2 separate regions of the Homo sapiens genome follow, and region 1 is linked to region 2. Evidence: fine-mapped expression QTL. A gene starts in region 2. The other region holds a variant in brackets. All regions are shown on one strand. Distances are between the middles of the regions.

The links. PIP is the estimated chance that this variant, and not a neighbour inherited with it, causes the effect. A credible set is the group of variants that fine-mapping cannot tell apart.
Region 1: its variant is the best candidate, but not a certain one, in a credible set for the expression of SUN2 in whole blood (TOPMed, PIP 0.69).

Annotation. Positions count from the first base shown.
Region 1 is chr22:38,719,740-38,725,110 of GRCh38, forward strand. It overlaps GTPBP1 (GTP binding protein 1), which reads left to right. Exons shown (of 12, transcript NM_004286.5): 5 at 2,003-2,126; 6 at 4,558-4,672. It also overlaps the pseudogene PRDX3P1. Among named protein-coding and RNA genes, the nearest start is that of GTPBP1, 16 kb to the left of the region's middle. The variant C/T (reference allele first, on the strand shown) is at 2,137.
Region 2 is chr22:38,752,890-38,758,189 of GRCh38, forward strand. SUN2 (Sad1 and UNC84 domain containing 2) reads right to left here and starts at 3,109. Exons shown (of 18, transcript NM_015374.3): 1 at 2,874-3,109. RefSeq lists enhancers at 1,923-1,992, 4,251-4,390 and silencers at 2,483-2,832, 2,943-3,492.

The DNA of each region.
Region 1 (5,371 bases), 33 kb before region 2:
CTCCTAAAAGTGAGGCCTGTCTCCTACTGTTTTTACAATCAAGAAAATGAAGAATAGTTACCTAATATCCTCAAATATTTAGTCTGTATTTATATTATTTCAGATGTTTCCCAAATATCTTTCAGCTGCTTTTTTTAAGCCATGAATCAGTCACCAGTTATCCCCCACTGCCTTTTATTTTCTTTCTTTCTTTTTTTTTTTTTTTTTGAGACGGAGTCTCGCTCTGTCGCCCAGGCTGGAGTGCAGTGGCGCGATCTCAGCTCACTGCAAGCTCTGCCTCCCGGGTTCATGCCATTCTTCTGCCTCAGCCTCCCAAGTAGCTGGGACTACAGGCGCCCGCCACGATGCCCAGCTAATTTTTTGTATTTTTAGTAGAGACAGGGTTTCACCATGTTAGCCAGGATGGTCTCGAGCTCCTGACCTCATGATCTGCCCGCCTCGGCCTCCCAAAGTGCTGGGATTACAGGTGTGAGCCACCGCGCCTGGCCTTTATTTTCTTTGAGATGGAGTCTCACTCTTGCCCAGGCTGGAGTGCAATGGCGCAATCTTGGCTCACTGCAACCTCCGCCTCCTTGGTTCAAGCGATTCTCCTGCCTCAGCCTCCTGAGTAGCTGGGATTACAGGCAACTGCCACCACATGCAGCTAATTTTTTTTTTTTTTGTATTTTTAGTAGAGAAGGGGTTTTCACCATGTTGGCCAAGCTGGTCTCGAATTCCTGACCTCAGGTGATTCACCCACCTTGGCCTCCCAAAGTGCTGGGATTATGGGCATGAGCCACCATGCATAGCTGAACACTCACCTCTTTTTATGATAGCATTCTATATGCAACTTACTTTTTTTTTCCCCTTAAAAGCATATTTTGGAGATTAGTCCATATCAGTAGATAAAAATTTCTTCTTTTGTACAGCACATTTCATACACGTGCCCTGATTTATGTAACCAGTCCTTACGGTGATATTTGGAAACATTTATTGTTACTGGAAGGATAGTAATAGTAATAACAGGTGCAATTGCTTAAACACCTAGTTCCTGCTAGTTGTGTGCTGGACACTTCATGTGTGTTGTGACATTTAAACATCAAGTGACCCTCTGAAGTGGATATTGTTATCTCCCCATTTTACAGATGGGGAAACTGAGGGCCAGTGATGTTAAGTTGAATCCACTTTTTGTTGTTGTTGTTTATGAGACACAGTCTCGCTCTGTCACCCAGGCTAGAGTGCAGTAGCTCGATCATGGCTCACTGCAGCCACAACCTCCCAGGCTCAAGTGATCCTCCCACCTCAGCCTCCCAAGTAGCTGAGACTACAGCGTATCCTGCCACACCCAGTCAATTTTTCTTTTTTTTGTAGGGTGGGGGAAACAGAGTTTCGCTCTTGTTGCCCAGGCTGGAGTGCAATGGCACGATCTCGGCTCACCACAACCTCCACCTCCCAGATTCAAGCGATTTTCCTGCCTCAGCCTCCTGAGTAGCTGGGATTACAGGCATGTGCCACCACGCCTGGCTAATTTTGTATTTTAGTAGAGACAGGGTTTCTCCATGTTGTTCAGGCTGGTCGCGAACTCCCGACCTCAGGTGATCCGCCTGCCTTGACCTCGCAAAGTGCTGGGGTTACAGGAGTGAGCCACCGTGCCCAGCCTTAATTTTTGTATTTTTTTGTAGAGACGGAGGTCTTACCAGGTTGTCCTGCCTGGTCTCAAACTCCTGGCCTCAAGTGATCTGCCTTCCTTGGCCTCCCAAAGTGCTGGGGTTACAGGCATGAGCCACTGCTCCTGACTTGGATTCATTTTGATGGCTCAGGACAGTTGTTTCCCTGACTGGGTTTATCTTTTTTATTGTTTGCAAGTCTCCTCCGATTTTGACGCCCCACATCATCGAGTCAGGGGTTAACGTGATTTTTGCCCAGCCCAGCTTTCATCCACATCTGCTTTTGAGCCCCTGTGTCCACCCAGCAGCAATCTCTTTCTCTCTCGTCCTGACACTTCCTTTCTGTGTTGGGGCAGGTGGGCAGCAATGCTGGCATCGTGGGGATGACCAAAGAACACCTGGGCTTGGCACTGGCACTCAATGTACCTGTCTTTGTGGTAGTCACCAAGATTGACATGTGTCCTGCCAACATCCTGCAAGGTAAGTGAAG[C/T]CTCCAGCTAGCAGCAGCCCCTCTGATTGGGGCTGTCACCTGCTGTGCCTTCAGGTGGTCTGCTACCACGGCTTTAGCCCAGAAACTTCTTTTCTTTTTTATTTTTATTTTTTTATTTTACAATATGTTTATTTTTATTATGTGCTCTACATTGAACACTTCAGCAAAGAAAATAATTATAATAATTTCAAAATGCAATCCCTGGATCCAATAACTATCCTTTATAATCCGTTACACTGGTCAGTATCTAGAAATATATGTAGACAAAGTTAGCTAATGAATAAAATAAGTAAAATGACTAGGTAAACTATAAATTTCAAGCATGAGGGATCATGCATGATCAGTTAAGTCACTCTGCCACTTTTTAAAATAATATTCACATTTGCTTCAATCACATAAACATTCATTGCAGGAGTTAAATTTGACTGCTGATAACAATTGAAAGCTGTGATCTTTGTTAGCTTAAAAGAAAATTCAGCTTAATACAAAGACATTCAAGATGAAAATTTCAGGACCCTTGATCAGAAGCTTTCAATGTGTGTTGCTCCACTTTGTTGTAGGCAAGCTTCAAGTAAGGCTAAGACAGAAGAGTGTTTCTACTGAAGATGTGATCTAAGAATTGCCTTCTACAGAGGCGAATTATATTCTGTAGAAACTAGCTAGCCACCAAGATGTTACCAATAAAGGATTCCTTATACTAGCAACTAACCATGTTTAAAAGGCCTTAGCCATTTAGAGTAATATTTATGAGTACAAGCATAATTGGTTCCTTGCCTTCTACAGATAATCATCTATAAAATGATAAAAGCAGGCTTCAACTGTGTTTCTTCTCTGGGGTGAGAAGGTGCAGATACACATGGGTGATCTACTGATTTACCTTCTGAAAGTACTCTTTGGAAGCAGCTGGATTTGGCTTGATTGTAGGAGAATCCAGTGTCCAGTTTGCTGGGCAGACTTCTCCATGGGTTTCTACATACTGGAACGCCTTCACCAAGTGGAGGGTTTCTTCCACGCTTCGGCCCACTGGGAGGTCATTGACGCTCAAGTGCTTGATGACTCCATTGGGGTCAGTTATGAAGAGACCTCTTAGTGCAAGACCAGAACCTTCTAACAGCACACCGTAGTCTCAGGAAGTTTGCTCAAATCTGACAAGAGTGGGATGTTCATGTGGTCCAAACCACCATTATTTCTTGGTGTATTTATCCAGGCAAGATGACTAAAGTGGGAATCCACTGAGACCACAACTTCACAGTTCACATCATGAAATTCCTTAGCTTTGTCACTAAAAGCAACAGTTTCTGTAGGACCACGAAGGTGAAATCCAAAGGATAGAAGAAAAGCACCAAATTATTTCCCCTTAAAGTCATCAAGGCTTAGGTCTTTGAACTCTCCATTGACAATGGCTGTACCCTTAAAATAGGGTGCATGCTGGGCGACAGCAGGTGCATGGTATGAGGAGCTGGTGCTAAAGAATTTTGCTTGACTGGAACCAGACCATAATATGTTTGTCAAGCTCGTTCTTCCAGAAGCAGCAAGCTTGAGGGCTGCAGTGGCAGAAATGCCCCAAGGAATGGCACTCACATGTCGGGCAGCCGATGCTCAGAGTAGCCTTCCCACAGCAGCTACCATCTTCAGTGCACGCGGGCGAAACTTCCTTTGTCTTGTACTTAGGTCTTGGCCTGAATTTCCATCAGCCCAGAATCTTCTGCTACTTCCTCCCCTATTTAGTTCTTGGTCTGAACACAGCCTAGAATTATCCTCTTCCTTGTTCCTTCTGGTTCCAAATGCAGAAATCTTGAGATCCTGAATCTGGCACCTCTTTTCAGGTGACCCCAGGCAGAAGGAGTTGGGCTCTACCAGCTAAGCTGGATATATACGGGGAAGTTTGGACAGAGGGTCTGATTACCTTTTGCCACCAAAGCTTTGACACAGGGTTGCAGGACTAAGCCTTCATGCCTTTCTCCCTCACTGCTAAAGATTGTAGAAAAGTATCCCTTTGGGAAGCCTCATAATAAGGGTCTCTGTAGACTTCTAAATGTCTAAGAGATCCTTTTTGTTGGATGAGATTTTTTTCCAGGAAGTAGTGCATTCTGAGAACTGAAGTGTGAAGTGAATTGTTTTTCTTGGGGACCCTCAAGTCACATGCTTACAGGAGGCAGGTCGTCTAGACACAAGAGAAATCTGCCAGGTTTCAGACGCAGAACCCTAGAAAAGAGGCCCCATCTGTGCTTTTCTTACTCTAGCAGCACCCAAAGTTTTGATCCTCCTTTTTGCTTCTCCAGGCATTGTGGCATTTAACACTGGTCCATCTATCTGTCTGTCTCCTGCTTGCATCAGTAATGAGTGGACCCATCTTGCTCTTAAAGCCTGGCCAAAGAGAAGGCTGTGTCCCCCTAATTCTGTTCCATTGCACCCTTTAAGAAACCCTGAAGCTGTTACAGCGCCTGCTGAAGTCACCAGGCTGCCGGAAGATCCCCGTGCTGGTGCAGAGCAAAGATGATGTGATTGTCACAGCCTCCAACTTCAGCTCTGAAAGGTAACGCGTGGGGAGCGCACACTTCAGACAGGCACCCTTGCAGGCAGGACCACAGTGAGTGATGGGCCTGGAATGGCTGTCAGTTTGGGCATAAGGTCTCATGAAAACACCACATCAACACCTCTCCCTATTCAGAGATCGGAGGAAATAGAAGCTTCCAATCTTAGCGCAGGGTCTCCCAAGCCAGCATTGTTGCCCAGGGGTAATATCACGTAACCCAGATTGTGAGGTGCTGGCATTCCTGGGGTTGGCATCCCGGCTGAGACTTCAGTGTCCTTATCTGTGAAATGGGAATAACATTCCCTTCCCTGTAGGGCTCCCGTGAATGTTGGAAATGAAGTATGTAGAGCACTTAATGCCCTGCCTGGCTGATGGATGGTAAATACACAGCCATTTTTGTAACTCAGTTTTTTATACTGTTGTTCCTCAAAAGCTCACTAATCAGATCAGTTTTGGCATTTACTCATTAATGTATTCTTTCATTCCATAAATATTTATTGGATGTTTGTTCTGCGAGACTCTTCATCTAGATGTTGAGGATTCAGAGTTGAATTGAACACAATCCTTGTCCTCAAGGTGTTCAGCTCCTTGGTGAGAGATGCTCTCTCGATAATGGTGAACTCTACTAACTCTGCCTGTTTGCCCAGAGCTTGGTCTATAGCGCCAGGCCCAGAGCAGCCTGGCTTTTTGCCTATGCCT
Region 2 (5,300 bases):
CACTTCGTGACTCTGGAGCCTCTTCCAGGGCGCTTTCCACAGGCTTCCCAATTCTCAGTTTCCTTGTCTTTATCCTTCATGGTGCTGAGCTCCGCACAAGCCAGAATTGGGTCTTCCTCGACCTCTGACAAGTAGCAGAGACTCTGGTGCTTCTGGTCACTGCCTGCACGCCCGGTGGTCCAGCCACCCCACCTGCCTTCTCCCTAGAGACTTCTCCCAGTCTCGCTCTAGCTGTGTCCCTTTGCTGACATGTGCTCGTTCATCGAGGGCCCCAACGAACCTTGATGGAAAACCTTTCCCATGTAGACCCCACCTATGTTCTTTTTTTTTTTTTTTTTTTTTTTGAGATGGAGTCTCGCGCTGCCTCCCAGGCTGAAGTGCAGTGGTGCAATCTTGGCTCACTGCAACCTCTACCTCCCAGGTTCATGCGATTCTCCTGCCTCAGCCTCCCAAGTAGCTGGGATTACAGGTGTGCGCCACCGGGACTGGCTAATTTTTGTATTTTTAATAGAGACGGGGTTTCGCCATGTTGGCCAGGCTGGTCTCGAACTCCTGACCTCAGGTGATCTGTCCACCTCGGCTTCCCAAAGTGCTGGGATTACAGGCATGAGCCACCACGCTCAGCCAAAAGGATTTTTCTTTTCTTTTCTTTTAATAATAGAGACAGGGTTTCACCAAGTTGGCCAGGCTCCCACCTACGTCCTGATGGCGCTTGCACTGTCTGTCCCCACGGTGCACACTGTGCTGCCACATCTTGGTAAGATGATGATAAAATGGTAAGTGTCTGCTGGGACCGGGCTCCTTGTATACCTCATTTATATTATTAGAAGCAAGGTAGGTATCATTACTCCCATCTACAAGGGAAGAACCTGGACACTGAGGCAATGGGTAACTTGTCCACAGTCCCCAGCCTGTAAGTGCCAAAGCCAGGGTTTGGGCTCAGCTCTGACAGGCTGTAGGGCCTGGGTCTTTCTACTCAGGCATAAAGTTTTCCAGTTGTTTCAGGAATGTATTGAAGATTCTAGTTGTGTGTCCTCAGCTAGAATCTTTTTTAGCCTCACACATGCGCAAAACAAGGCTGTATACAAACTTGTTACACAACAAATATTTGTTAGCAAACTAACAAAATAGGGAGGAGGAGGGCAGCATGAATTACAGTCAGTTCCGGTCACCATGTGGGGCAGAAATCAAGGCTCTGGAACTGATAATGAGGACAAAGGAAGCCAAAGTGCAAAGATCTGGCAAGAGGTAGCATTCTGTGACATGAGGAAGATTAATGAACCACTCAGGTCTAGACACCCGAATTCAAAGTCCCCGACTGCCAACATGGGGAGTCTCAACGTTAGTGCCTCTGCTGGCCCGTACAACAAAGTCACTTGGGAATTCCTAGCACTTGCTTGTGACTTTTGATCACTTCTAATATTCCTGGTTGATACTTAAATGACCAGTTCTCTGGGTTGTGTGGTGAGTATAGAAGTCCACTTCCCAACCCAGGCTGCAGAAACCCGAAGGTCTGGTTAGTCCAGCTAGAAAGTCCTCCTCTGAAAAACAAGCAGCCTCATGTCCTGGCCTTGTTGGCATCTTCCCAGGTCAGACGCCCATCTGGCATCCCCTCTACTTTTAGCTGGTGTTGGAAAAGGGACCGATTGGTAGTAGGAAAAGCAGGAAGTTGGCCTGGGTCCTTGTCTCTATTCCTGTCCTTATAAGGTAATCTCCCCTCCCCCCTCCCTGCCCCGCCCGTACGGTCCCTACCTGAAGGCTCCAGCTGCCCACACAGGGACTCCTCTTAGCCTCTGTCCTGCTGAAGGAGGTGACACCTTTGCCCAGGGCAGAAACAAGGCAACATGTTTATACCATACCCAAGCTGCCGCTGGGAAGAACTAAATATTCTGATGGAGGTTGAGCGGGGAGTGCTGAAAACTGTCAGCACCCGCCTCCGCCCTCCCAGAACTCCCAGAGATGCCTCTCAGTCTTTCCTGCGGCATCCTGGCATCACAAAACAGTTTACCATTGAGTCTGGGTTTCACAAGATGAAAAAGGTCGAGGCCCCATTCTCCAAAACAAGAAGTGAGCCTCTGGGAGCTGAAATCTACTACTGCGAATCATAATAGACACCACCCCCGCCCCACCTCCTCCCTAACAATCAGTTAGGAAACGCTCATCGGAAAGCATCCTTCCCCACTTCTCAGCTGGGCGACTTCCTTTCTCAATTCCGCCCTTCCCCATCACAAACATCTCCATCCATCTTCAGACTTAAACCAGATCTGGGGCATCTTCCTCGTGACATTTCCACTCCCTGGGCACAGCCAGGCCACACGCCCTTGTGGGACCTGCCAAACGCCCGGTGCTAACTCCCTCTGCCCTCATTCCCACAGGCCAAACCTGCAGAAATTGTCACCAAAGGCGCGCCTCCTGGCTCTCTAAGTCACACCGCGCCCCCCATTGCTTTGTTTTGTTTTGTTTTAGAACTGAACAAAACGGGCCTTCCTCTGAGGCCCTGAGTTCTGACAGGCAGAGGCTGGGAACTGCCTGTCCCTGGAAACGGCCTGTCTGGCACAAAACCCGTAGGCGCTGCCCGGGGCCGGGTTGGGGCAGTCGGCCTTTGCCCTCCTCCTCCCGGGAGGCTGCCCGGGAAGTCCCGCCCGCAGACACCGCCCTCCCGGCTGACCAGTGGCGCGGCAGGCGGGGCGGGGGCCAGGAGGTGAGTCAGGGCGCGGGCCGCGGACCCGGGTGGAGGCTGGATCCGGCCCAGCACGTCCCGGAGAGGAGGAAGCAGGCCTGGCGGCGCGGCCCCGCCCGAGTGGCCCGACGGTGACCCGGGGTCAGGCCGGGCCGCGGCCCCCCAACCCTCTCCTGAGCTCGCCCGCACTCACCTGCTGCCGCGGCGGCTTCTAGCCCGGCCGGGGGCGTCCGAGGCCAGGCCGCCGCCGGGGCGCGCCCCCTTTCCGCGTGGGGATCCCGCGGGCGGCGCTCCGCTCAGGGCGACACAGCGGCCGGGCCCGGGGCGCGCGGGCACGCGAAGAGCGGCGACGCGGGACAAGGCGGGCGGGCGGACAATGCGGCCGGCGGAGGCCCGCGCTGCGCGAGTGGGGCCGGGCGGCGCGCGTGTGGCCGACTCTGTATGTGTGCGCCTGTCAGTCAACGCTGACAGGCCGCAGCCCATTGGTCAGGCCCCGCCGGCCGTCACCGCCCACCGCCGCCACCCATTGGCCGGTTTGAACACAAAGCCCCGGCTCGCCCCGCCCTCGCGTGGGCCCCGCTGCCCTGCGCGCTCAGCCTAGGAGTCCGCGCGTGGGAGGCGCTGGGCGGGCGGGGACCCCGGGCTGCGGGAGGACGCGACGGGAGCCTGTGCTGGGGCTCGGGCTCAGCAGGGCACTGGACTCCCGATCTGGCGGCTCAGAACACCTGAGACAGCTCTGAGCGCTCCCACGCGCGCCTGCAGCCTGGTTCACCAGGCCGGCGTCCGAGGGGAGGGTGGGAGCCCTGGGAGCGGCAGCGCGCGGGTGGCCCTTGGTGCACTCTCGGTGAGGCTGTCGAGGGCTTGCTCAACACCCGGCACCAGTGCCGTTGTCCTCTTAGCCGGCCATTTCTACACCCATTTTTCAGACAAGGAAACAGGTTGCTAATTTGGGGATTCCAGACATGCTGGGAGGCCCTGCCTCTTCCCAAGCTTTACCCAGAGCACCCAAGTTTCACGACAGCTCTTCTATTTTTTGTTTGTTTTAAACAGATTTTCTATTTTATTTAAATAGAGACGAGATCTCACTATGTTTGCCTAGGCTGGTCACGAACTCCTGAGCTCCAGTGATTCTCCCGCCTCGGCTTCCCAAAGTACTAGGATTACAGGTATGAGCCACCGCGCCCGGCCAGCTCTTCTGTTTTAAGGACGGTGCTTGCTGCACTTGAGCTGTGGGAAGGCAGGGCTGGCCACTCATTCTTCTACCTTACTCAGACTTGGAACGAGTGCTCAGCGTTTGAGTAAAATGCTGCCTGACTCCGGGGGTCCTGTTCCTTGGCTCCCCATCCGCCAACTGTACAGATAGAGCAGGTGCACAGCTTGGGATGAATCTCTTTCTGTGCCAGCCCTTCTAAGGGCAGATGAACAGTCGTTATTTTACTTTTAAAGTACCAAGAGGAAACGAGACAAGAATGACAAAATCACCGAGGCAGGAACAGGAAGGCTGTGGGGTCGGAGGATTGAGGAAAGGCAAAACCCTCATGCTAAAGCGGCTTCAGCCCAACTCCAGACAAGAACAGTCCCCTTTCCTGGGCCTCCATTGCCTGCTCTGGAAAGAGAAGAGTCTCCTGCTCTTCCACCCTCCTGGAGACCACGGTGCTGGCCATTATCACTCCTAGGTTTAGACTGCAAGCTCTTTGAGGACATGGACAAGCTCTCCAGAGCCTGGTACCGAGCCTGGCTCTGGTCTGAGTGTCTGCTGGATGGAGCAATGAAAGGAGAATTCAAATCAGACGTAGGGGCAGCATCCAGGTAGGGGAAGGGCCTCTCTGACTCCTCATCTCTGGGATGCGCAACTCCAGAATTCTGTCCTAACCACTTCTATGGAGTTGCCACATCCTACCTCCTCCATTGCACAGCCTGCTTCCCCCTCTCCGGGGGTCCTGGCAGACAGGGGGGTCTGGCCTTGCTGGGGTCGGGGGGGAGTCCAGGTCCCCTCCCAGGATGTGCTGAGTGGATATGTGAGGCTCATGCCCACAGGCTGACTGAAGGCAGGCCCCTCTTAAACTCTGCATCCTCTGGGGGCTGGGAGCAGGCAGAATAATGGTCGCTACAGGAATTCGGTACTAATGCTTGGAATCTGTGACTGTTATCTACATGCAAAGACTTTGCAGATGTGACTAAAGATTTTGAAATGAGATTATCCTAGATTATCAGGGTGGGCCCTAAGTGTAACACAAGTAACCCTTTAAGAGAAAGATAGGGGCTGGGCACTGTGGCACACGCCTGTAATCCCAGCACTTTGAGAGGCTGAGGCAGGTGGATTGCTTGAGCTCAGGAGTTTGAGACCAGCCTGGCCAAATTAGTGAGACCCCCCCCCCCCACCACCCATCTCTAAAAAAGAAAAACAAAAAAAGAAAATAATTAGCTGGGCATGGTGGTGTGTACCTGTAATCCCAGCTACTCAGGAGGCTGAGGTGGGAGGATAGCTTGAGCCTGGGAAGTCAAGGCCACAGTGAGCCAAGATCAAGCCACCACACTCCAGCCTGGGTGACAGAGCAAGACTCTGTTTCAAAACAAACAAAAAACCAAAGAGAGGCAGAGAAGACGAGCAGAGGGCAAT